Regions from separate parts of the Homo sapiens genome. Here region 2 is linked to region 1. The links come from fine-mapping of genetic effects on gene expression. A gene starts in region 1. The other region holds a variant in brackets. All regions are shown on one strand. Distances are from middle to middle. Region 1 holds the start of FBXO33 (F-box protein 33). Region 2 overlaps LOC105370461 (a long non-coding RNA gene).

Evidence for each region. PIP is the estimated chance that this variant, and not a neighbour inherited with it, causes the effect.
Region 2: its variant is fine-mapped to the expression of FBXO33 in whole blood (INTERVAL, PIP above 0.99).

What each region holds. Positions count from the first base shown.
Region 1 is chr14:39,427,668-39,439,237 of GRCh38, forward strand. FBXO33 (F-box protein 33) reads right to left here and starts at 4,766. Exons shown (of 4, transcript NM_203301.4): 1 at 3,897-4,766. The coding sequence starts at 4,495. It overlaps LOC105370461 (a long non-coding RNA gene), which reads left to right and starts at 4,772. Exons shown (of 8, transcript XR_007064121.1): 1 at 4,772-4,852. RefSeq lists silencers at 3,755-3,884, 4,325-4,454, 5,195-5,364 and an enhancer at 4,555-4,804.
Region 2 is chr14:39,582,698-39,594,267 of GRCh38, forward strand. All of the region lies in intron 2 of LOC105370461 (a long non-coding RNA gene), which reads left to right. Among named protein-coding and RNA genes, the nearest start is that of FBXO33, 160 kb to the left of the region's middle. RefSeq lists an enhancer at 6,687-7,276. The variant G/A (reference allele first, on the strand shown) is at 4,622.

The DNA of each region.
Region 1 (11,570 bases):
GGGGATCACACCTGTAATCCCAGCACCTTAGGAGGCAGAAATGGGAGAATCATATGAGGCCAGGTATTAGAGACCAGCCTGGGCAACACAGTGAGATCCTGTCTTTACACAAAATTAAAAAAATATATATATCAGCCAGGCATGGTGGTGCATGCCTGTAGTCCTAGCTACTAGGGAGGCTGGGGTGGGAGGATCATTTGAGCCCAGGAATTTGAGGCTGCAGTGAGCTATGATCATGATTGCTCCATCCTGAGTCACAGAGCAAGACTCTGTCTCAAAATATTTTTAAATGTCTTTATTATTGTTTCTTGGTAGGAAACAATACAAAGGTAAGATTCTCCTTCACTGTGCATGCCAAATCAACAAGACCCAAATCTAAGTATTATTAATAGATCCTTTTTAACTTACAGGATATATAAGCAGACACAGTCATGAAATGGTCAATCTACATACAAGCAGTTAGAGCTGTACCCAGAATCTTAAAAAGAAAATCAATCTTGTACAAAATTTCTCTGGTCTGTTACAATATGCATTCTTTTTTTTTAAATTTTTTTTTGAGACGGAGTCTGGCTCTGTCACCCAGGATGGAGTGCAGTAGCACGATCTCTATTCACTGCAACCTCTGCCTCCTGACTTCAAGCGATTCTACTGCCTCAGCCTCCTGAGTAGCTGGGATTACAGGCATGCACTGCCACACCCGGCTATGTATTTTAAAAGAGATGGGGTTTTGCCATATTGACCAGGCTGGTCTCGAACTCCTGACCTCAAGTGATCCACCCGTCTCGGCCTCCCAGAAAGTGCTGTCATTACAGGTGTGAGCCACCACCCCTGGCCAACGATATGAATTCTCAACAACAACAAAAAAGTACTGCCCCTAACAGCATTCCACCCAAGAAAAGCTTATGTAAAACATTTATACAGCCCATAGAAGCATAAACCAGATGAAGACAATGTGCCTATGGCTACTCTTCAGGTATTTTTAGTGACTGAGTCTATTACCTATTATCATAAATCTTACCATGAGCTCTCGTTTTTCCTAAGGAGTCTGAAATACAGCATTTTAATAGGCAGTACCCAACCTGACAACTGGATTAAATGCTAAAAATGCATTTATATCTATTTGTTGTTTGCACTTCTAGGTACAATTTCTTATAGAACGACTGCAGAGAAATTCAGCCTATGTGACCTAAAATACAGTTGAATGAGTACTTACTGCCCCTCTGTTCTTACTATTAATGAAGAAGACAGGTATCCTAGTGCCCTGTAGAGAAGGAATTTCTGAAACGTGAAGGACTGTGTGTTACCCTCAGAGAGGCACTTATGCACCTTCTTTATCCTTATTAGTTGTTCCTAAAACCTAAGATACAGGTATGGCAACTATAATCACTATGAGAATACATGTATATATATAACCCAGGAACCAAGCAAAACAAAATGCCAATTGTCCTCTCTGAAGATCAGCACCCTTGAAAAGTTCACACAATTCAAGTTTATACTTTTAATTATTTTCCTGAGGGACATGAAAATAACTGGAACAAAACAAAATAACAGTCTGAATTGTATGAACTGTATAAAGGAATTCAGCACAAAGCCTGGAAGCAGAATGCTTATGATCTGGTATGATTCACACCCCCTCTTTTCTACTTATAGAATGGCAGAAATCATAAAGCAAAACCATTGTAAATTTAACTTGGAAATGTAAAGAGCAATGTCAAATGTCCCAAGTCTATAGTTTAAGTGATTATAGAAAGAAATAATAGGCTTTACTAGTCACTGATAAACAATGTGGTTTAAAACATTTTCAGATTTGTTAAAATTTAAAGGAAACTAGTCTTATTTATGGATTTAATATTCATATTAACTTTTCCAATATCACAGAGTATCTCAAAACACTTTCAACAGTAAAGATGAGATTAACTTATTTCCAAAAACCCTTTGATGTATCATTAGTACAAACAACATGCAATTACACTACATTTTGAGACAAACAGAATGAATATGCTACCAAAGCAGCATGACATACAACACCATGCTAATAGTAGATGACAAGCAAACCTTAAAATTAGGGATGACGGGTGTGATGTTTTTGCATAGAAGTGATAGCTGACCCAGAAGGGCAGGCATCGGTGGCCTTATAGAGAAGCAGATTGGGATGCTAATAAAAATTGTAGGGGTAAGGAAGAGAAGGACAGGAGAATTAAGCTACAAAGCAAAGATGTGAAATATCTCCATTTTGCCTGTATGTTATCCACCCATCCAACCAACCAGTTATTAAAATACTTAAAAGGAACTAGACACTTATCAAGTCTTGTTCTTACTTGGGTCAAAGGCACATACAGTGTTTGCATGGTTGCATAAAAGTGCAATTTGATCTCAGTACAGAAAAATCTAATTGGTACTCACTCATTGAATTCACCCTCAACCTTGGTCTCATTAGTAAGTGCTCACTGACTGAAACTTTGCAACTTTTGGGTCAGTTGGTCCTCTAGCCATACATTCAACTCTGAGAAAGTCTCTAACCTAATCTGTTTTTAGCTTCAATGGCCTCTCCTGCCAGATAAAACCAAAGTAAGGAAATAGAATGTCTTGCGAAAAGCTGTGGAAACGCACAGGCAACTGGAATAATGGAGCCATATCCCAGATACAACTTGGAGCTATAACTTATCTCTTGACTTCTAAATTAAGACACAGATTAATGGCGCATACATATATATATATAACCTTATATCTATATATATCTCCTAGCATTAAACCAGGGACTGCTCTCAACCTTGTTCAACATAATGTTCAGTATATTTACTGCAAAAGGACACGCTTTCGGAGAAAAACAATGCCGTACAGCAATGTGCAAATCACTTGATCCTATAAAGGGTCAGTTTCCTTTCTGTAAAACAGGGTTATTTATCATTACCCTGCCTCATAGTGCCACTGAGAGGCTCAAACAACACAGTGAATGTGAAACTGCTGAAGTATTTTTACTATGTAAGGTGCTCCTTTTGTGAACGTCTAAACTTTCTTCTAATAAGAGCTTTACTGTAAGGTTCTTTAGAATATCCATATAAAGAAGATCTAAATTAATAGGGTTTTGGAGGTGGCGATGGAGAAAAATGATGATTGGGAGGGATACTGGGTCAGAATATAAGGCGTTAGTTCTGGAATTACAGTGAAGTCCTGATGCAAAACCAGAACAGTTATGTGCTTACCCTCTGCAGACCCTGGCCAACTCCCTCGCTGCCCGCCCGCCTCCTCCGCCCGACTGTTACTTTTAGGTGAACTACTGGGGAGAAGTTGAGTGTGGTGGTGTATGGGGAGGGACTTTCAACCCTGAAGATCAACTTCTTCCCCAATCCCTTTAACAAACACTCCTCCTCCTCTTCGGGCCTTGTTCAGTTAGCCGAAACTATTTCTGGTAAGAAAATGGCTGTTACAAAATTTCTTTTAGGCAGCGTCCTATGAGTACCTACTCCTTCCCTCACCATGAACTATTTCTAACAGATTCAGAGTCAGAAAATCGTGTTATGTGTATGTTTTGTTTCTTCCAAGGCTCACCCACAGGCCTCACCCTCCCAGTCTTAACGCTCCCATATATAAAATGAAAAGTGACAGCGCCTGTCAGCTCCATCCCACGGCCACCAAGAGGATGAATGAGTGCCTGGAAGGCGCCAGAAGTGGTGTCTGTTAAACACCCCGTCCACCACTGTTTATAAAGTATCGTGATGAGTCCCGTTATGCCTTTCCGCTCAAGGAAACCGCCTAGTTAGAACCAACACTCTCCGTCACTGAGGAAGGCAACACTGAAGTTGGCCGGGCACGTATTATGCACAGAATCTGTGTCGGGGTGCGGGGACGGAGCGACCCCCCGTTACCGGGCGGGGCGGGGCTCAGGGCAAGCCTACCTGTTGTTCCGGATGCTGACCAGCACGCAAAGCACCAGCTCCAAGTAGGTGCGCAGCACTTCCAGCCAACGAGCTGAGAGCTGCAGGGCCTCGACTTCCTCCCCTCCAGTCCCGGTGTCCGCGCCACCTCCGTCCCCTGGGCCACCGCCGCTCAGATAGTTCTCGGCGGCGAATTCAACACGCAGCTCTCGCACGAACCAGCCGCACTTGCGCATGAGGAATTCCAGCCGAGGCTGCTCCGCGGGCGAGACGCGGAGGCAGATGCGGAGCTGGGGCCACAGGGCCGGATAGAAGAGGCACTCACGCCAGTGCGAGCAGGAGGCCGAGGCCCGCAGCCGGTCGGGCGCCGGCAGAAAAGAGAAGATGTGCACGATCAGCTCGCTGGGCAGCGACGCAGCGCCCGCCGCCTGCCCGCACAGAGCCATCCGGCCCCGCCGCCGGCTGCCGGCTCCCGGCCGCCCCCGCAGTACCCGGAGCAGCCCCCGCAGCCGTCGCAGCTGCTGCAGCCGCAGCCGCCGCCACCGCGCCACCCGGGCGGCCCCGGCTCGGGTTCGAGCTCCCGGCGGTCGGGGCTGCGGCACTGACAAGAACAACAACATCAATGACTAGGAAGAAGGGGGCGGAACCGTCGTGGGTCTCGGCGGAACCAAGTAGAACACAAGTTGTGGAGAGGGGGAAAGGCCTCTGCGGGCGTGGCCTGCCGGGAGCCAGCCTCTGTCTTCTCAAACTCTACTCACGTGCGTCCGAGGCCGGCACACTGAGTAACTGCACTGCCCTCGCTCGTAAACTTCAGCGGCCCGGAAGCCTCAAGGCGTACTGTAAGGAAAAGGCAGCCCTCCCTGCGCCGGTCGGCAGAGACAGAGAAGTGGTAGGAGCTGAGTTTGACGTCGCCGCTGGTGGGAGGAGTCCGGCGCGCACCGGCGCGACTTCCGGAAGAGGGGAGCGCCCGATTGCCTGTAGGGACGGGAGGCGCGGCACGTGATCTCTGACGCACGCAGGCCGCGGGGCGGGGCGGGGCTGGGCGGGGCGGGGCGGGGCGGGGCTGGGCGGGACTGGAACCGGCACTTGGCACCCCTTACGCCTTACGGTGGCCGCTGCGCCCAGTCACATCTGTAAGTCGGTTAATTTTGGCGCTCGGTCGATGGAGGTGGCGGTACTCTGGTTTAGTGCGAAAGGTCGTCACGCTTCTTTGTAAAACGTTTCTCAGTTTGGGCTGAGGACCCTGAGCCAAAGTGGCGGCATGCAGGGTCTTTCTCAGCCATCCCACCTGCCCAGAGTAGGGTTAAGAATTCCTGAGATTGCGCCGCTGAGAGGGAGCTGGCGGACGGGCGGGCTAACCCCGGCGGGCTGTGCCGGGAGGGGCGGTGTGGGGCGTGGCGGAGGCCGCGAATGGACCTGCCCCCTCGGTCCAACCACGCAGGTGGACTTCCGCGCACTCGCTGGTGTGTGGGGAAGCAGTGAGGACAGCGTCACCCTTTGGATTCAGAGGGAGAGAAAAAAATTGGCAAAGGGATCTGAGATCCGCAGGTTGTGACCAGCCTCTTCTCCAGGGCTTGAGGAAGGGTCTCTTTTCCCTGTGCTGAGATTTAAGGCTCTCGTTGAAAAGTTCACAGTAATGACAGAGCTTTGATTTTTTTTCTTTCTTCTTCTTCTTTTTTTGCCTGGTATCCCTAACTTAGATTTTCCAAACCATGTCCCTAACTTCACCACAGCCTACTGCAAAGTAAACTCTGGTTGCAAAGAGTGGTGAAGTCAGAAAAGATTAAGTGACTTTATGTAATAATCGAGGGTTGCTTTAGGGAGGCTGCCTCTTTATGTAATAATTGAGAGTTGCTTTAGGGAGGCTGTGATGTTGGAATAGCATCGTTCTTTTGTGGTAAACACCAAGACTTTTTGGACTTTTTTTTTTTTTTTTGGTTTTAAGGAGCGGAGAATTTAATAGGCAAGAAAGAAGGAAGAAGGCTGAAGGAAGAAGCTCCCCACTACAGAGACAGACGGAGGGGGCTCCCAAGACGAAAGAGGAGACCCCCATTCTAGATGTTCTTAACCCTTTGAGGGCAAAGCTCTCCGTTTAATGCCTTGCACATATCAGGTTGCCAACAACATGGTGTGGTTTATCAATTGTGATAGGTTACTTATTCGAGCCCCTGTTTACAAGAGTTTTAGGTAATTATACCTTATTAATTTTAATGAACTCTTAGAGGGCGACCCCAGTCGTGGGTTCGGCAGGATGAAACACTACCCATTTACCAGTTTACAGACATTTAGGTCGTTTCGAGTTATGAATAATGCTGTGAACATTCATGTGCAAGTCTTTATGTGGACGTATGTTTTAATTTGTCTTGGGTAGATACCTAGGAATGAAAGTGATGGGTCGTAGGGTAGTTCTATGTATAACTTTTTGAGAAACGGAAACTTTTTCCAAAGTGGCTGCATCATTTTTCATTCCCACCAGCCATGTATGAGGGTTTCCAGTTCTCTGACTTTTTTTTTTTTAATATTCTAGAAATGCACTGTAATTTGAGATTGATATTTTTTTCTTAGCATTTTGCTAGCAACAAGCTACCATCTTGGAGATCATTAATAATTAGTCTTTAATTATTAGGAATGGTTCCTGAGTAAAATGAAAATATGTCAGTCTGCCATAAATGAAATTCATTATTTTAGAATTTCAAACTTTCTTCTTAAATGAAGTGTGGTAGGAATCCTATTTTAACAACTGTAAGCTAAAGAATTAGCTGTGAATCTTGCCCAGTTTCAATAATAAATCAGTGAATTCCAATGGTTGCACAAAATTTATCTTATCAGGCCAATATATTTACTATTAATTAAATGTATATTGAGTATGTATATTTAGCATGTTAAGTGAGTTAGATTCTTTTGACATATATTCTATACTGCTAAAATAAAATTGACTCATATAGGACAGAATGGAATTACATTTTGTGAAGTTATAAAATCTGAGCTATGATTCAGAGTGTGGGAGGAAGTACTGACGTTATGAAGCTCATAAGTACCTAGTAGTACTAAGCTCCAGGTTCCAAAAGTGGCATATTGTCACTATAGCAACCACCATGCTTATTTGGATTTGAAACCCAGGCAACGAATGGTGGATAGGACTATAATATTAAGGTAGGTATCTGCTCTGGTGGATTGATATGCCTGCCTGTTGATAGTCAATGGTCTGTTCTGTTTTTCTTGTTATACTCATGGTTAATTCTTTTAGAGATAAATTAAGCACTTAATATTTTTATATTTCTCCTTTTCTAACATGCTAAGTTTAGTGTTTTTCCTAGTTAGGTAATTGGGGTATTAAATATATCTTACTATAGCTTTCTTTCCATTTTTGCTTAAGTTTGGCAACTTTCTTTGGGTTAAATATAACTTTTATTATACTGAATCACTTGCAATTTTATAATAGAAAAAAGTAACCATGACAGATTTTATTTTAGCTGCATCATGAAACGATGTTCAAGGCTACCAGTAAACATGAAAATTGCCTAAATTCTAATATTTCTTGAAAAAATACAGTTTTCTGAGTGATGTCTGGGTTTCAGACATTGTTGACAGGTAGAGGTGACATAATACCCTTCCAATTATCTCTTAGCATGCACCCATAAATTTACCTAGAGGCACAGGAACCTCCTGCGACAGTAGATCTGGGTACCTCATTCCCGTCACCCTTGTCTGGTGGATTGAAGTGTTTCCTAGTGGAATCATATTACAGTAAAAAGAAATGAGGGATTGAAGGGAATTCATCTTTAGAGGAGGAAGTCTGCGTTGGTGAGCTACATGACAGAGGACCGCGTCATTGGTTTGTCAGTCTAGGTGTAGCATGTCGCTGATATCACAACTTTTTCTAACCAAGCCACTCATGAGTTGATTGTGCAAGACCTCTCTCCATAAAGCAGGGATTGATAGTTCATATATCAAAGGAATCAGATACGTGTAGTGAGAGAAGAATTGGGTACTGTGCAATATAGGGAGATGGAAAGATTTTGTCTTACAGGAGGATGCTTTTCGCAAGTGGGAAAGTGGGCTCTGTGTTTCCAGATTTCCTAGTTTTTCAAAAGTAACTAAAATCCTCATTTTTAAAAAGGTTAAACCTTCAGATTGCCAATTTATTTACATTAAAAATATTCTGTGGGCATAACAAAACCAGATTTAGTCTTCAGGGCACCAGATTTCAAATTCTTTACCAAAGTTCTCAAAACTGTGGGCCAAGGCCATATTTTGTCTCTGTAGCTAGGCCTACTAGCTAATCCCCGCATTTTAAGTCCACTTCCAGAGCTATTTTTTTCCCTATCTATCCCATTTAGTTAAAAAATGAATTCAAAAGGTTTAACTTGAATGCCTGTTTTATTGCATTACTGATTTCTTCCCTTTTATTTAAGAGGATGGGTGTTTTCAGAGGTACCCTTTATTGCTTAAGTACATATTAAAAACTAAGTGTTATGTTTAACACAGCTGGTTCAACCAATAAAATTCCTTGACTTCTAGTTAAAATCAGTAATTGACTAATGATCCTCGTTGGAGTTGTGCAGCTTAGATTATAGGCAGGATCCCCCAACGGGGCTCACGGGACTGTTACTTAAGAGGCACAGTCTCCAAAGTAGTCATTTTAATTGGGTTCCTTTGGTTGTTTAACCTAACTAGCTTAAGCACTGAGAGGATTTTCTTTTCTCCTTCCCTCTGGCCCTCTTCCTCCTCTTCCTGGAGTTTTGAGGACATCCACAGGTATCCTTTGATGTGTAGGGACCGGAATGGAAAACTAAAAGCAGGAGCTAAGGTTACTCTCTTCATCTCTGAGTACCACAGTTTCTTGGAATCTTCATCAAGCTTTTCCAGGTCATACTGGCTGAGTAATCTTAAGACTTTGTCATGAAGAAATATATTATTCATGGCTAATTACTGCAATATTCTCATTGCAGAATTTAATATTTAATCCTTTGGAAAATCTTTTTAGCCCATTAGGTGCTGAAAAGGAGAAATGAAGTGAATATTTTCATATAGTAGCATTAATTGGAATGTTGTCTTGCTCTAGGCCAAAGGGGTTTCACTTGATGTGCCAATTTTAATTAGTTTTGCAGGCTGAGAAGTACTATGTTAAGAAAGATTTTGAGGTTGTCCTCATTCTACTGGAAGGAGTATCATTTGATTTGTGATGTCTGCCATAGTTGGAAAGAATTGGTGACCTGTTTAGGTAATTATTGTCTAATGTGACTATATATTAGTGTTTGTTTTCTACATTTGTTGCACTGTGCAGATACATTCTTTAGTGAATTGTATTCATGCTAATTCCTTATTTTATGAATAGCAACAGATCACTTAAATAAGTTTTATAAATTATTTCAAATTAGGAATTTTTATAATATAGCTACAACGTATTAAGTAAATTTTGACATCTATAGATGAATCAACTCGTAACTGAATTATCTGGGAATGTGAATCAGTTCTTCATTTATATTGAATATTAAAAGGGGAGTCATACTTTCATACCACAAGGAAAATAAAACAAATTTTTCATTCACTTGAAGGTTATGGAATTTCTTCCATAGTATTCAGTTTATGTAGGAAGATTCTCATATCTCTAAAATCTAACCCTTTAGCAAGAAATTTCTAGTAGAAATTCATTACATTTTTTTTCTTAAGAGTAATACATGACCATGGTAACAAAAAAATGTAGTACAAAAGTACTGTTGATGAAAAGCAACAGATTTTCATCTCTTGCCTCCCATTGTCAGGCCTACTCCCAGAAACATTTTTAACAATTTTGATGTTAGATTCATTAGGTAATTTTATTTCATTTAATTCATTTTTCTTTTTTTCCCCCATACCTTGCTCTCTTCCCTCCCCCTCCCCACCAGTAGTCCCCAGTGTCTGTTGTTGCCATGTTTATATCCATGAGTACCCAGTGTTCAGCTCTCACACGTGAGAACATCGGTATTTGGTTTTCTGTTCCTGCATTAATTCACTTAGGATAATGGCCTTCAGCTGCATCCATGTTGCTGCAAAGGACATGATTTTTCTTATTTTTAATGGCTGTATAGTATACCATGGTATATATGTACCACATTTTCTTTATCCAGTTCATATGATGGTCATCTAGGTTGATTCCATGTCTTTGCTATTATGAATAGTATTGTGGTGAACATGCGAGCATGTATGTCTTTTTGGTAGGATGATTTGTTTTCTTTTGGATATATATCCAGCAGCGGGGTTGCTGGATCGAATAGTACTTCTAAGTTCTTTGGGAAATCTCCAAACTGCTTTCCACAGTGGCTGAACTAATTTACATTTCCACCAGAGTGTATAAGTGTTCCCTTTTCTCTGCAGCCTTGCCAACATCTGTTATTTTTTGACTTTTTAAATAACAGCCATTCTGACTGGTGTCAGATGGTATCTCGTGGTTCAGATTTGAATTTCTCTGACGGTTAGTGATGTGGAATATTTTTTTCATATGTTTGTTGGCTGCTTATGTGTCTTATTTAGGAAAGTGTCTATTCATGTCTTGCCCATTGTTTAATGGGGTTATTTGTTTTTCGCTTGTTCAGTGGTTTAAGCTCTTTTAGATTCTGGATATTAGACCTTTGTTTGTGGTGTAGTTTGCAAATATTTTCTCCCATTTTGTAGGTTGTCTATTTACTCTGTTGATAGTTTCTTTTGCTGGGCAGAAGGTCTTTAGTTTAACTAGGTCCCACTCGTCAAATTTTGTTTTTGTTGCAATTGCTTTTGATAATTTAGGCATAAATTATTTCCCAAGGCTGATGTCCAGAATGGTGTTTCCTAGGTTTTCTTCTAGGATTCTTGTAGTTTGAGGTCTTACATTGAAATCTTTCATCCATCTTGAGTTAATCTTTTTATATGGTGAAAGGTAGGGGTCCAGTTTAATTCTTTTGCATATGGCTAGCTAGCTACCCCAGCACCATTTATTGAATAAGGAGCCGTTTCTCCATTGCTTATTTTTGTCAACTTTGTCAAGGATTAGAAGGCTGTAGGAGTGTGGCTTTGTTTCTGGGTTCTCTATTCTGTTCATTGGTCTATGCTGTCTGTTTTTATATCACTACTATGTTGTTTTGGTTACTATAGCCTTATAGTACAGTTTGAAATCAGGTAATGTGATGCCTCTGGCTCTGTTCTTTTTGCTTAGGATTGCTTTCACTATTCAGACTCTTTTTTTGGTTCCATATGAATTTTGGAATAGTTTTTTCCAATTCTGTGAAAAATGACATTGGTAGTTTGTTAAGAATAGTGTTGAATCTGTACATTGCTTTGGGCAATATGGCCAGTTTAACAATATTGATTTTTCCAGTCCCTGTGCATTGAATGTTTTTCCATTTGTTTGTGTCATTTATAATTTTTTTTCAGCAGTGTTTTGTAGTCCTTTTTGTAGAGATCTTTCACCTCCTTAGTTATATATATCCCTAGGTTTGTGTGTGTGTGTGTGGCTATTGTAAATGGGATCATGTTCTTGATTTGGTTCTCAGCTTCAACATTATTGGTGTATAGAAATGCTACTGATTTTTGTACATTGATTTTGTATCCTGAAACTTTACCAAAGTCATTTATCAGTTCCAGGAGCCTTTTGGTGGAGTCTTTACGGTTTTTTAGATATACAGTTATACTGATAGCAAAGAGAGATAGTTTGACATCTTTTCCTATTTGGATGCCTCT
Region 2 (11,570 bases), 160 kb after region 1:
CTAATTCTATTGTCATTTTTAATTCAAAAGACTACAACTTTACTGTTATATTCTTAAACATAGTAAGCCTGTTTTTTTTTTTAAATCTATAAAATAAGGAACTTGGGTAAAATGTTCCTAATGTGCTTTTCATAGATAAAATTCTATTATTCAATAGGAAGTACTGAAAGGCGTACTTAGGATTGCTTATTTCTCTTACAAAAACCTCATCAGTATATGTTCTATGCTTCTATAAAAATGTATTACAGATGATTACTTTTAGAACTAAAATGAAAATATATATTAAGCACTTACTGGGGAATTAGGATTTTTATAATCATAGGACAGTAGTGAAAATTACTTGAAATCTGTTATAACTGAAAAACAATTCAAGGAATTTAATGACATTAATCTTTACATTTGAAGATAAGCCTGTGACTGTGTATATGTTGTAACTGTTACAATAAATGATAAAAACTAGCTTCTATTTTGGATTTTGTTATCTTGATTGCTTACTGAAAATATTAATGGAAGTAATGACACAGGAGTCAGGGAGAGGAAGGAGATGGGCTGTCCAAACATGTTTTCTGTTATCCATGTGTGAGCACTGCCTATGAACACTAAGGCAGGGGTCCCCAACCCCTGGGACCAGTACTGGTCTGTGACCTGCTAGGAACTGGGCCGTATAGCAGGAGGTGAGCAGTGGATGAGCAAGGGAGCATTACTGCCTGAGCTCTGCCTCCTGTCAGATCAGCAGCGTTCAATTCTCATAGGAGGGCTACCCTGTTGTGAACTGCACGTGCAAGGGATCTAGGTTGCACACTCCTTATGAAACTCTAATGCCTGATGATCTGAGGTGGAACAGTTTTATCCTGAAATCATCCCTCCAGCTTTGCCCCACATCCCCACTGTCCATGGAAAAATTGTCTTCCACGAAAATGGTTCCTGGTGCCAAAAAGGTTGGGGACCACTGCTCTAAGGAATATATTTAGAATTGCTGGAATAAATAATTTTTATCACTGGTGAATTGGCATATGGTTTTCTGTGTTTGATTTATATATTATTTAACTAAGTAAGTGTTCTGAAGAGGAATTTAGAAAAAGAGTATTTTATTCACTAGTAGGAACTTTAGTGCTCAGAGACATGTTTCTGCAGCCTGTCCCAGCATGTTATTTTTTGAACACATTGCATCTTCAGTATAGATGTGGTTTGAAACTTGGACTTCACTTTTAATTCACGTCATCTTGGTTAGGAAATTCAACTTCTCATTAGTGAAAATTTCTTATAAAAGCGAGAATAATGCTACCTATATTTTTTGGGATTGTTGTGAAGATTACACTTGATAAATTTAAACACCAATATATGTGTAAGGTGTACCATAAATTATTGATATATATATCATTGTAACCACTAATAGCAAATGTTTCTCAATGGCCTAGTAAGTAAAAGGTGTTTTGTTGATTCTGGGATTATAAAAAGATAGAATTTGTGGTCTTCATAGTTAGAAGCAGTATTTAAATAACGAACTTACTATTTGTAACAGTAGTTATTTACTTGCAATCTTTAAAAATTGTTATTTATTTATTTATTTATTTATTTATTATTATACTTTAAGTTTTAGGGTACATGTGCACAATGTGCAGGTTAGTTACATATGTATACATGCGCCATACTGGTGCACTGCACCCACTAACTCGTCATCTAGCATTAGGTATATCTCCCAATGCTATCCCTCCCCCCTCACCTCAAGCCACAACAGTCCCCAGAGTGTGATGTTCCCCTTCCTGTGTCCATGTGTTCTCATTGTTCAGTTCCCACTTATGAGTGAGAATATGCTGTGTTTGGTTTTTTGTTCTTGCAATAGTTTACTGAGAATGATGTTTTCCAATTTCATCCATGTCCCTACAAAGGACATGAACTCATCATTTTTTATGGCTGCATAGTATTCCATGGTGTATATGTGCCACATTTTCTTAATCCAGTCTATCATTGTTGGACATTTGGGTTTGTTCCAAGTCTTTGCTATTGTGAATAGTGCCGCAATAAACATACATGTACATGTGTCTTTATAGCAGCGTGATTTATAGTCCTTTGGGTATATCCCCAGTAATGGGATGGCTGGGTCAAATGGTATTTCTAGTTCTAGATCCCTGAGGAATCGCCACACTGACTTCCACAATGGTTGAACTAGTTTACAGTCCCACCAACAGTGTAAAAGTGTTCCTATTTCTCCACATCCTCTCCAGCACCTGTTGTTTCCTGACTTTTTAATGATTGCCATTCTAACTGGTGTGAGATGGTATCTCATTGTGGTTTTGATTTGCATTTCTCTGATGGCCAGTGATGGTGAGCATTTTTTCATGTTTTTTGGCTACATAAATGTCTTCTTTTGAGAAGTGTCTGTTCATGTCCTTTGCCCACTTTTTGATGGGGTTGTTTTTTTCTTGTAAATTTGTTTGAGTTCATTGTAGATTCTGGATATTAGCCCTTTGTCAGATGAGTAGGTTGCAAAAATTTTCTCCCATTTTGTAGGTTGCCTGTTCACTCTGATGGTAGTTTCCTTTGCTGTGCAGAAGCTCTTTAGTTTAATTAGATCCCATTTGTCAATTTTGGCTTTTGTTGCCATTGCTTTTCGTGTTTTAGACATGCAGTCTTTGCCCATGCCTATGTCCTGAATGGTAATGCCTAGGTTTTCTTCTAGGGTTTTTATGGTTTTAGGTCTAATGTTTAAGTCTTTAATCCATCTTGAATTGATTTTTGTATAAGGTGTAAGGAAGGGATCCAGTTTCAGCTTTCTACATATGGCTAGCCAGTTTTCCCAGCACTATTTATTAAATAGGGAATCCTTTCCCCATTGCTTGTTTTTCTCAGGTTTGTCAAAGATCAGATAATTGTAGATATGCGGCGTTATTTCTGAGGGCTCTCTTCTGTTCCATTGATCTATATCTCTGTTTTGGTACCAGTACCATGCTGTTTTGGTCACTGTAGCCTTGTAGTATAGTTTGAAGTCAGGTAGCGTGATGCCTCCATCTTTGTTCTTTTGGTTTAGGATTGACTTGGCGATGCGGGCTCTTTTTTGGTTCCATATGAACTTTAAAGTAGTTTTTTCCAATTCTGTGAAGAAAGTCATTGGTAGCTTGATGGGGATGGCATTGAATCTATAAATTACCTTGGGCAGTATGGCCATTTTCACGATATTGATTCTTTCTACCCGTGAGCATGGAATGTTCTTCCATTTGTTTGTATCCTCTTTTATTTCCTTGAGCAGTGGTTTGTAGTTCTCCTTGAAGAGGTCCTTCACATCCCTTGTAAGTTGGATTCCTAGGTATTTTATTCTCTTTGAAGCAATTGTGAATGGGAGTTCACTCATGATTTGGCTCTCTGTTTGTCTGTTGTTGGTGTATAAGAATGCTTGTGATTTTTGTACATTGATTTTGTATACTGAGACTTTGATGAAGTTGCTTATCAACTTAAGGAGATTTTGGGCTGAGACAATGGGGTTTTATAGATTTACAATCATGTCATCTGCAAACAGGGACAATTTGACTTCCTCTTTTCCTAATTGAATACCCTTTATTTCATTCTCCTGCCTAATTGCCCTGGCCAGAACTTCCAACACTATGTTGAATAGGAGTGGTGAGAGAGGGCATCCCTGTCTTGTGCCAGTTTTCAAAGGGAATGCTTCCAGTTTTTGTCCATTCAGTATGATATTGGCTGTGGGTTTGTCATAGATAGCTCTTATTATTTTGAAATACGTCCCATCAATACCTAATTTATTGAGAGTTTTTAGCATGAAGGGTTGTTGAATTTTGTCAAAGGCCTTTTCTGCATCTATTGAAATAATCGTGTGGTTTTTGTCTTTGGTTCTGTTTATATGCTGGATTACATTTATTGATTTGCGTATATTGAACCAGCCTTGCATCCCAGGGATGAAGCCCACTTGATCATGGTGGATAAGCTTTTTGATATGCTGCTGGATTCTGTTTGCCAGTATTTTATTGAGGATTTTTGCATCAATGTTCATCAAGGATATTGGTCTAAAATTCTCTCTTTTGGTTGTGTCTCTGCCCGGCTTTGGTATCAGGATGATGCTGGCCTCATAAAATGAGTTAGGGAGGATTCCCTCTTTTTCTATTGATTGGAATAGTTTCAGAAGGAATGGTACCAGTTCCTCCTTGTACCTCTGGTAGAATTCGGCTGTGAATCCATTTGGTCCTGGACTCTTTTTGGTTGGTAAGCTATTGATTATTGCCACAATTTCAGCTCCTGTTATTGGTCTATTCAGAGATTCAACTTCTTCCTGGTTTAGTCTTGGGAGAGTGTATGTGTTGAAGAATTTATCCATTTCTTCTAGATTTTCTAGTTTATTTGCATAGAGGTGTTTGTAGTATTTTCTGATGGTAGTTTGTATTTCGGTGGGATCGGTGGTGATATCCCCTTTATCATTTTTTATTGCATCTATTTGATTCTTCTCTCTTTTTTTCTTTATTAGTCTTGCTAGCGGTCTATCAATTTTGTTGATCCTTTCAAAGAAGCAGCTCCTGGCTCCTGGATTCATTAATTTTTTTGAAGGGTTTTTTGTGTCTCTATTTCCTTCAGTTCTGCTCTGATTTTAGTTATTTCTTGCCTTCTGCTAGCTTTT[G/A]AATGTGTTTGCTCTTGCTTTTCTAGTTCTTTTAATTGTGATGTTAGGGTGTCAATTTTGGATCTTTCCTGCTTTGTCTTGTGGGCATTTAGTGCTATAAATTTCCTTCTACATACTGCTTTGAATGCGTCCCAGAGATTCTGGTATGTTGTGTCTTTGTTCTTGTTGGTTTCAAAGAACATCTTTATTTCTGCCTTCATTTCATTATGTACCCAGTAGTCATTCAGAAGCAGGTTGTTCAGTTTCCATGTAGTTGAGTAGTTTTGAGTGAGATTCTTAATCCTGAGTTCTAGTTTGATTGCACTGTGGTCTGAGAGATAGTTTGTTATAATTTCTGTTATTTTACGTTTGCTGAGGAGAGCTTTACTTCCAGATATGTGGTCAATTTTGGAATAGGTGTGGTGTGGTGCTGAAAAATATGTATATTCTGTTGATTTGGGGTGGAGAGTTCTGTAGATGTCTATTAGGTCTGCTTGGTGCAGAGCTGAGTTCAATTCCTGGGTATCCTTGTTAACTTTCTGTCTCGTTGATCTGTCTAATGTTGACAGTGGGGTGTTAAAGTCTCCCATTATTAATGTGTGGGAGTCTAAGTCTCTTTGTAGGTCACTCAGGACTTGTTTTATGAATCTGGGTGCTCCTGTATTGGGTGCATATATATTTAGGATAGTTAGTTCTTCTTGTTGAATTGATCGCTTTACCATTATGTAATGGCCTTCTTTGTCTCTTTTGATCTTTGTTGGTTTAAAGTCTGTTTTATCAGAGACTAGGATTGCAACCCCTGCCTTTTTTGGTTTTCCATTTGCTTGGTAGATCTTCCTCCATCCCTTTATTTTGAGCTTATGTATGTCTCTGCACGTGAGATGGGTTTCCTGAATACAGCACACTGATGGGTCTTGACTCTTTATCCAATTTGCCAGTCTGTGTCTTTTAATTGGAGCATTTAGTCCATTTACATTTAAAGTTAGTATTGTTATGTGTGAATTTGATCCTGTCATTATGATGTTAGCTGGTTATTTTGCTCGTTAGTTGATACAGTTTCTTCCTAGTCTCGATGGTCTTTACATTTTGGCATGATTTTGCAGCGGCTGGTACCGGTTGTTCCTTTCCATGTTTAGCGCTTCCTTCGGGAGCTCTTTTAGGGCAGGCCTGGTGGTGACAAAATCTCTCAGCATTTGCTTGTCTGTAAAGTATTTTATTTCTCCTTCACTTCTGAAGCTTAGTTTGGCTGGATATGAAATTCTGGGTTGAAAATTCTTTTCTTTAAGAATGTTGAATATTGGCCCGCACTCTCTTCTGGCTTGTAGAGTTTCTGCCCAGACATCCGCTGTTAGTCTGACAGGCTTCCCTTTGAGGGTAACCCGACCTTTCTCTCTGGCTGCCCTTAACGTTTTTTCCTTCATTTCAATTTTGGTGAATCTGACAATTATGTGTCTTGGAGTTGCTCTTCTCGAGGAGTATCTTTGTGGCGTTCTCTGTATTTCCTGAATCTGAATGTTGTCCTGCCTTGCTAGAATGGGGAAGTTCTCCTGGATAATATCCTGCAGAGTGTTTTCCAACTTGGTTCCATTCTCCCCGTCACTTTCAGGTACACTAATCAGACGTAGATTTGGTCTTTTCACATAGTCCCATATTTCTTGGAGGCTTTACTTGTTTCTTTTTATTCTTTTTTCTCTAAACTTCCCTTCTCGCTTCATTTCATTCATTTCATCTTCCATCGCTGATACCCTTTCTTCCAGTTGATCGCATCGGCTCCTGAGGCTTCTGCATTCTTCACGTAGTTCTCGAGCCTTGGCTTTCAGCTCCATCAGCTCCTTTAAGCACTTCTCTGTATTGGTTATTCTAGTTATACATTCTTCTAAATTTTTTTCAAAGTTTTCAACTTCTTTGCCTTTGGTTTGAGTGTCCTCCCGTAGCTTGGAGTAATTTGTCTGAAGCCTTCTTCTCTCAGCTCGTCAAAGTCATTCTCTGTCCAGCTTTGTTCCGTTGCTGGTGAGGAACTGCGTTCCTTTGGAGGAGGAGAGGCGCTCTGCTTTTTAGAGTTCCAGTTTTTCTGCTCTGTTTTTTCCCCATCTTTGTGGTTTTATCTACTTTTGGTCTTTGATGCTGGTGATGTACAGATGGGTTTTTGGTGGGGATGTCCTTTCTGGTTGTTAGTTTTCCTTCTAACAGACAGGACCCTCAGCTGCAGGTCTGTTGGAGTACCCGGCCATGTGAGGTGTCAGTCTGCCCCTGCTAGGGGGTGCCTCCCAGTTAGGCTGCTCGGGGTCAGGGGTCAGGGACCCACTTGAGGAGGCAGTCTGCCCGTTCTCAGATCTCCAGCTGCATGGTGGGAGAACCACTGCTCTCTTCAAAGCTGTCAGACAGGGACCCTTAAGTCTGCAGAGGTTACTGCTGTCTTTTTGTTTGTCTGTGCCCTGCCCCCAGAGGTGGAGCCTACAGAGGCAGGCAGGCCTCCTTGAGCTGTGGTGGGCTCCACCCAGTTGGAGCTTCCTGGCTGCTTTGTTTACCTAAGCAAGCCTGGGCAATGGCGGGCGCCCCTCCCCCAGCCTCGCTGCCGCCTTGCAGTTTGATCTCAGACTGCTGTGCTAGCAATCAGGGAGACTCCGTGGGCGTAGGACCCTCCGAGCCAGGTGCGGGACAGGATCTCCTGATGCGCCGTTTTTTAAGCCCGTCAGAAAAGCGCAGTATTCGGGTGGGAGTGACCGGATCTTCCAGGTGCTGTCTGTCACCCCTTTCTTTGACTAGGAAAGGGAACTCCCTGACCCCTTGCGCTTCCCGATCGAGGCAATGCCTCGCCCTGCTTTGGCTGGTGCACGATGCGCACACCCACTGACCTGCTCCCACTGTCTGGCACTCCCTAGTGAGATGAACCCGGTACCTCAGATGGAAATGCAGAAATCACCCGTCTTCTGCCTTGCTCACGCTGGGAGCTGTATACCGGAGCTGTTCCTATTCGGCCATCTTGGCTCCTCCTAAAAATTGTTTTAAAGTTTGTATTGGATTTGAATTTTAGAGGCTTGCTAACTTTCCTTTAATAGTAACTCTCTGACTATCCTTACCCTTTTACCAACCAGGCTAGCAAAGTTGAACCACCAGTTTTAATGTTCTCACTTTTCATCTGTGGACCTAGACATGAAAACAATGGAGGCTAAGATGGGATTTTTGAGTTAACCTGCTCTCCACTGACTTTTTGAGTGGACGGTGGAGGTACTTCTCATGAAATACCAAGGTAGAAAGTGAACTTTACCCTTGTTGCATTTTGGCATGGCTTGCTTACAGCTTTTATTCATGTTAAAAGGTAAATTTATGACATGGAAATAAATAGTCATAAGTTTAGATTACGGATCCCAGCTGTCAGACTCTCCAGCCAGAGTGGGTCCTGTGGTGTCCAGCCTTCTCTGCTCTGCTTCTCTAGCCTTGACTAGTGCTTCATAGAACTATGTATGATACATTTTTGGTTACTATCATAGCCTCCCAACTCCTTTACAATTTTAGCTAATATTCTGTCTGCTATTATCTTAGCCTGTAGAAATGAAATGATCATGTAGGTTCATACATGTGTACATTGTTGTCTATGATACAGTCTCACTTGTAAAAAACTTCCTCAACAATAATCCATACTCTTAGTATTTTTGTAGCAGTTCGGAACTACTGGAGGTGAAGTCACTACCAAGTTCTGAATGTTTGTGAGGTGAGGAAACCACTAACATGTGAGAATATTTCCCAAAATCACTTCCTACCACAATATTTATGTTTCCAAGAAATTAACTGAACATTTACAATTTACTAAATACTTTAATGATTTATATATAACAATGTATATATTTTTTACAACAATTTAGGTGGGTACTATTATTATTCCTGTTTTGAGGATGAGAACATGAAGAAATGGAGAGTCCTACAGCTGGCCTCCTAAGTGGCCTGATGTACCACAGTTAGGAAGGGGCAGAGTTGAGACTACAACCCAAGTCGTGTGGGCACAGAGTCTGTACCTTTGGCATTTGCATTGCCAGTCTTTGAGGGGAGGTTTGGTTTTCCCATTTAGAGTTGGCAGAGGAGAGCAGGATGGAAGAGATGACCTCCACAGGATAATTCCAGGCTCTCAGAGCCAGAGAATCTTTTTCTCAATGCATAGTTTGAATTGGGCCTCTGGATCAGGGACCACGTGATGTAATAGCCCCAGTACGATAATATTTTGGATTGATGCTTTTCTTGTAATCTAGTCTCAGGCTGGAAAATGTATCTAGTTTATCAAGCATCATAAGGTCAACATTGGAGAATAGGCAACTAGAAGTCAGACTTGGAATTCACTGGTTCAAATTTCTTACATAGTATAATTTATGTATGTAATAAACATTAGTAGTAATACATGCCATTATCTGCCTTTAACCAAAGTTCTAAAACAGTGGTTCTCCCTTGTTATTTTGCAACACTTTGGGAGTGTTATGAAATTATAATATTAAAATGTTCCTACTAATATATAAAACACCTATGATATTATTGTGCCTTTTGGTGGGTGGGAATGAGGGTTTTGGATGTGGTCAAACTTCACTAAAAGTGTTAATAACCATGTAAGAGTGTGGAGAATATTTTTATTTATTTTGCTTTTTACCTATCCTCTGTAATGCCAAGTGTGAATAACTATTTGATAAAAATTGAAGAGAAACACGAGACTGAGGTTAAACAGGCTGAGTGAGGAGGCGGATGCAAATAGTGAGAGGAATAGCCTGATTTTTCCAAGGACAAGGATTTAGGCTGATGGGATGTATTATTCGGGGGCTGGGTGAGGCAGGGAGAGGAGGCTGAAATATGAGGAGAGGCTAAAGAAGGCAGAAATCTTCATTTTAAGAATCAGTGCTGTCTGTAACAAAAGAACCATTCCAGTGTCTCAAGGCAGCAGCAGGATGCTGTCTGTTCCAACAACTCATGGTAATTGGAGAAGGACGTTTCCCAGGCAGCTAAAAGTAAAGAAACAGAAAGGATTCTGCCTTATGGAAAAGCTCACTAACACAGAGACAGCAGAACAGGTGCGGGGCTGGAGGGCTTTGAAGATGTTGCAGAAGCAGGAAGCAGAGAGCATTGAGTTGTAGCATCCAGGCCCTACTCCCAGATTTGCTAGGGATGGTTGGCACTGTTACAGGGCCCAGTTCAAGTGCCTGAGAAAATGACTTCAGTGTGTGAGACATGCCAAGGGTTATACTATTTCTACCTTCTAGAATAGGGTGTAGGAAACTGGATGGGAGGGAAGGGTTGCACTGAATCAGCCAGAGGGCTGAGCTTTGCACCATGACCCTTCCCACTATGGCAATGATGTGGCATCTCACTGGCCAGCACATTGGTAATTTGAGTATGTCTTTTGTTATGTTCTCTGTATTTAGAATTAAGGGAGTTCAGACACTGTAAAGAGAAGGTGTAATATGTTAAGGCTTTTAAAATGTGAATTTTTTGGCATATATGGTGGAGAAAGCAAATGCTTAGTTGTGTGACAGGGATCAGAGTCTCCTTAGAAACTAATTAACAAAGTGTCCAGTATATTAATTATTTAAATTCATAAAATCATGGACTTGTATTAGATGATCTTTCAGGTTTTTTTCCATACATAAAGTTTCACAGTACTTCACACACTACAGTTTCTTTCTATATAGTCTATGATGACCTCTTCATTTTACCCTCAGACACAAGCTTTTACGGTTGGCCTTTTGTGGTCTTTTTTGGTATTGATAGTTTAGATTGAATTTTTGGTTCCTGGCATTTGGCTTACTTACTGATTTTTTTCTCATCTTGTGTCTCAAGAGAGCTTTCTTAAAATAAAATTCAGTCTCTCTTTTGTTTTCAGCATGATTGCATCTAATTATGTAATTAGGCTAAATACATGCAATCAGGAGCAAGTAATAAATATTAGATTCTAACTCTGTAAATTTTGTTTTTCGTAGTAAATGCCTCAGGGGCAGAGCTTTTTTATTTATGCCTGCTAATACCTTCCACAGTGTTGTACATGTACCAAGAACTCAGTAGTTATTTGTTGAATTAATGAAGTATTTTTAAGATGCAATGCAAATCTCATCTAAAAATATGCAAATTCTCTCGAGACGCTAGAAATATTTTTCAAAGTTATTTAAAGCCATATTATGTTTGGACCATGTACTGGTTTAGGCTAAATTGATTTATCAAGCTGTATGTTTGGCACAGTGGTGGCTATGACTACATTAGTTGTCTTGGAAGAAAAATGATTTTTATAGGTCATAAGTTAGGTCAGTTAGTCATCATAGATTTACTGTGTTTCTGACACTGTTTCCTTAGATTTGATCTGGCTTTTCTCTTGTACATTTGAAGCTTATTTAGGAGTGTGTCAGAACAAGCTGTCTCACCTGCCTGAATTGTTAGCCTTTAGGGCAGGGACAATGTTGTTATGTTATGTTCAGAGCAGGGCACAGGAGAGAGTTGCCTGGATCATAAAGAATGGTGATGAGCTCAAGTTGGTGACCTGGTTCCTCTGTTCAGACACTATGGGCTGGAAAGGATGTGCCATATTTCTCAGGGGTTTTTCCTAATAACCCCTCTGCAGCTATCCTGCACCTTGTTACAAAGTCTTCTTTTACATTACTTTGTAAACATGTACCTGTAATGTAACTTCCATTTTTCAAGCATTCCAATGTTACAAGCACATAAAAATACACCTTGTTTTATTTGTGTTTTTATACTCAATACCTAGCAAAATTCCTGGCATACGGAGAAGTTTGAAATGCTTGTTGAGTCAAATAGAGCTGGTGCCTGTGGCAGTGGATAATCAGGCAGTCGAAAGCAGATTAAAATCTCAAATCTAGGTGGATAAGCTGTTGATGTGCTGCTGGATTTGGTTTGCCAGTATTTTATTGAGGATTTTCACATCTATGTTCATCAGGGATATTGGCCTGAAACTTTCTTTTTTTGTTGTGTCTCTACCAGGTTT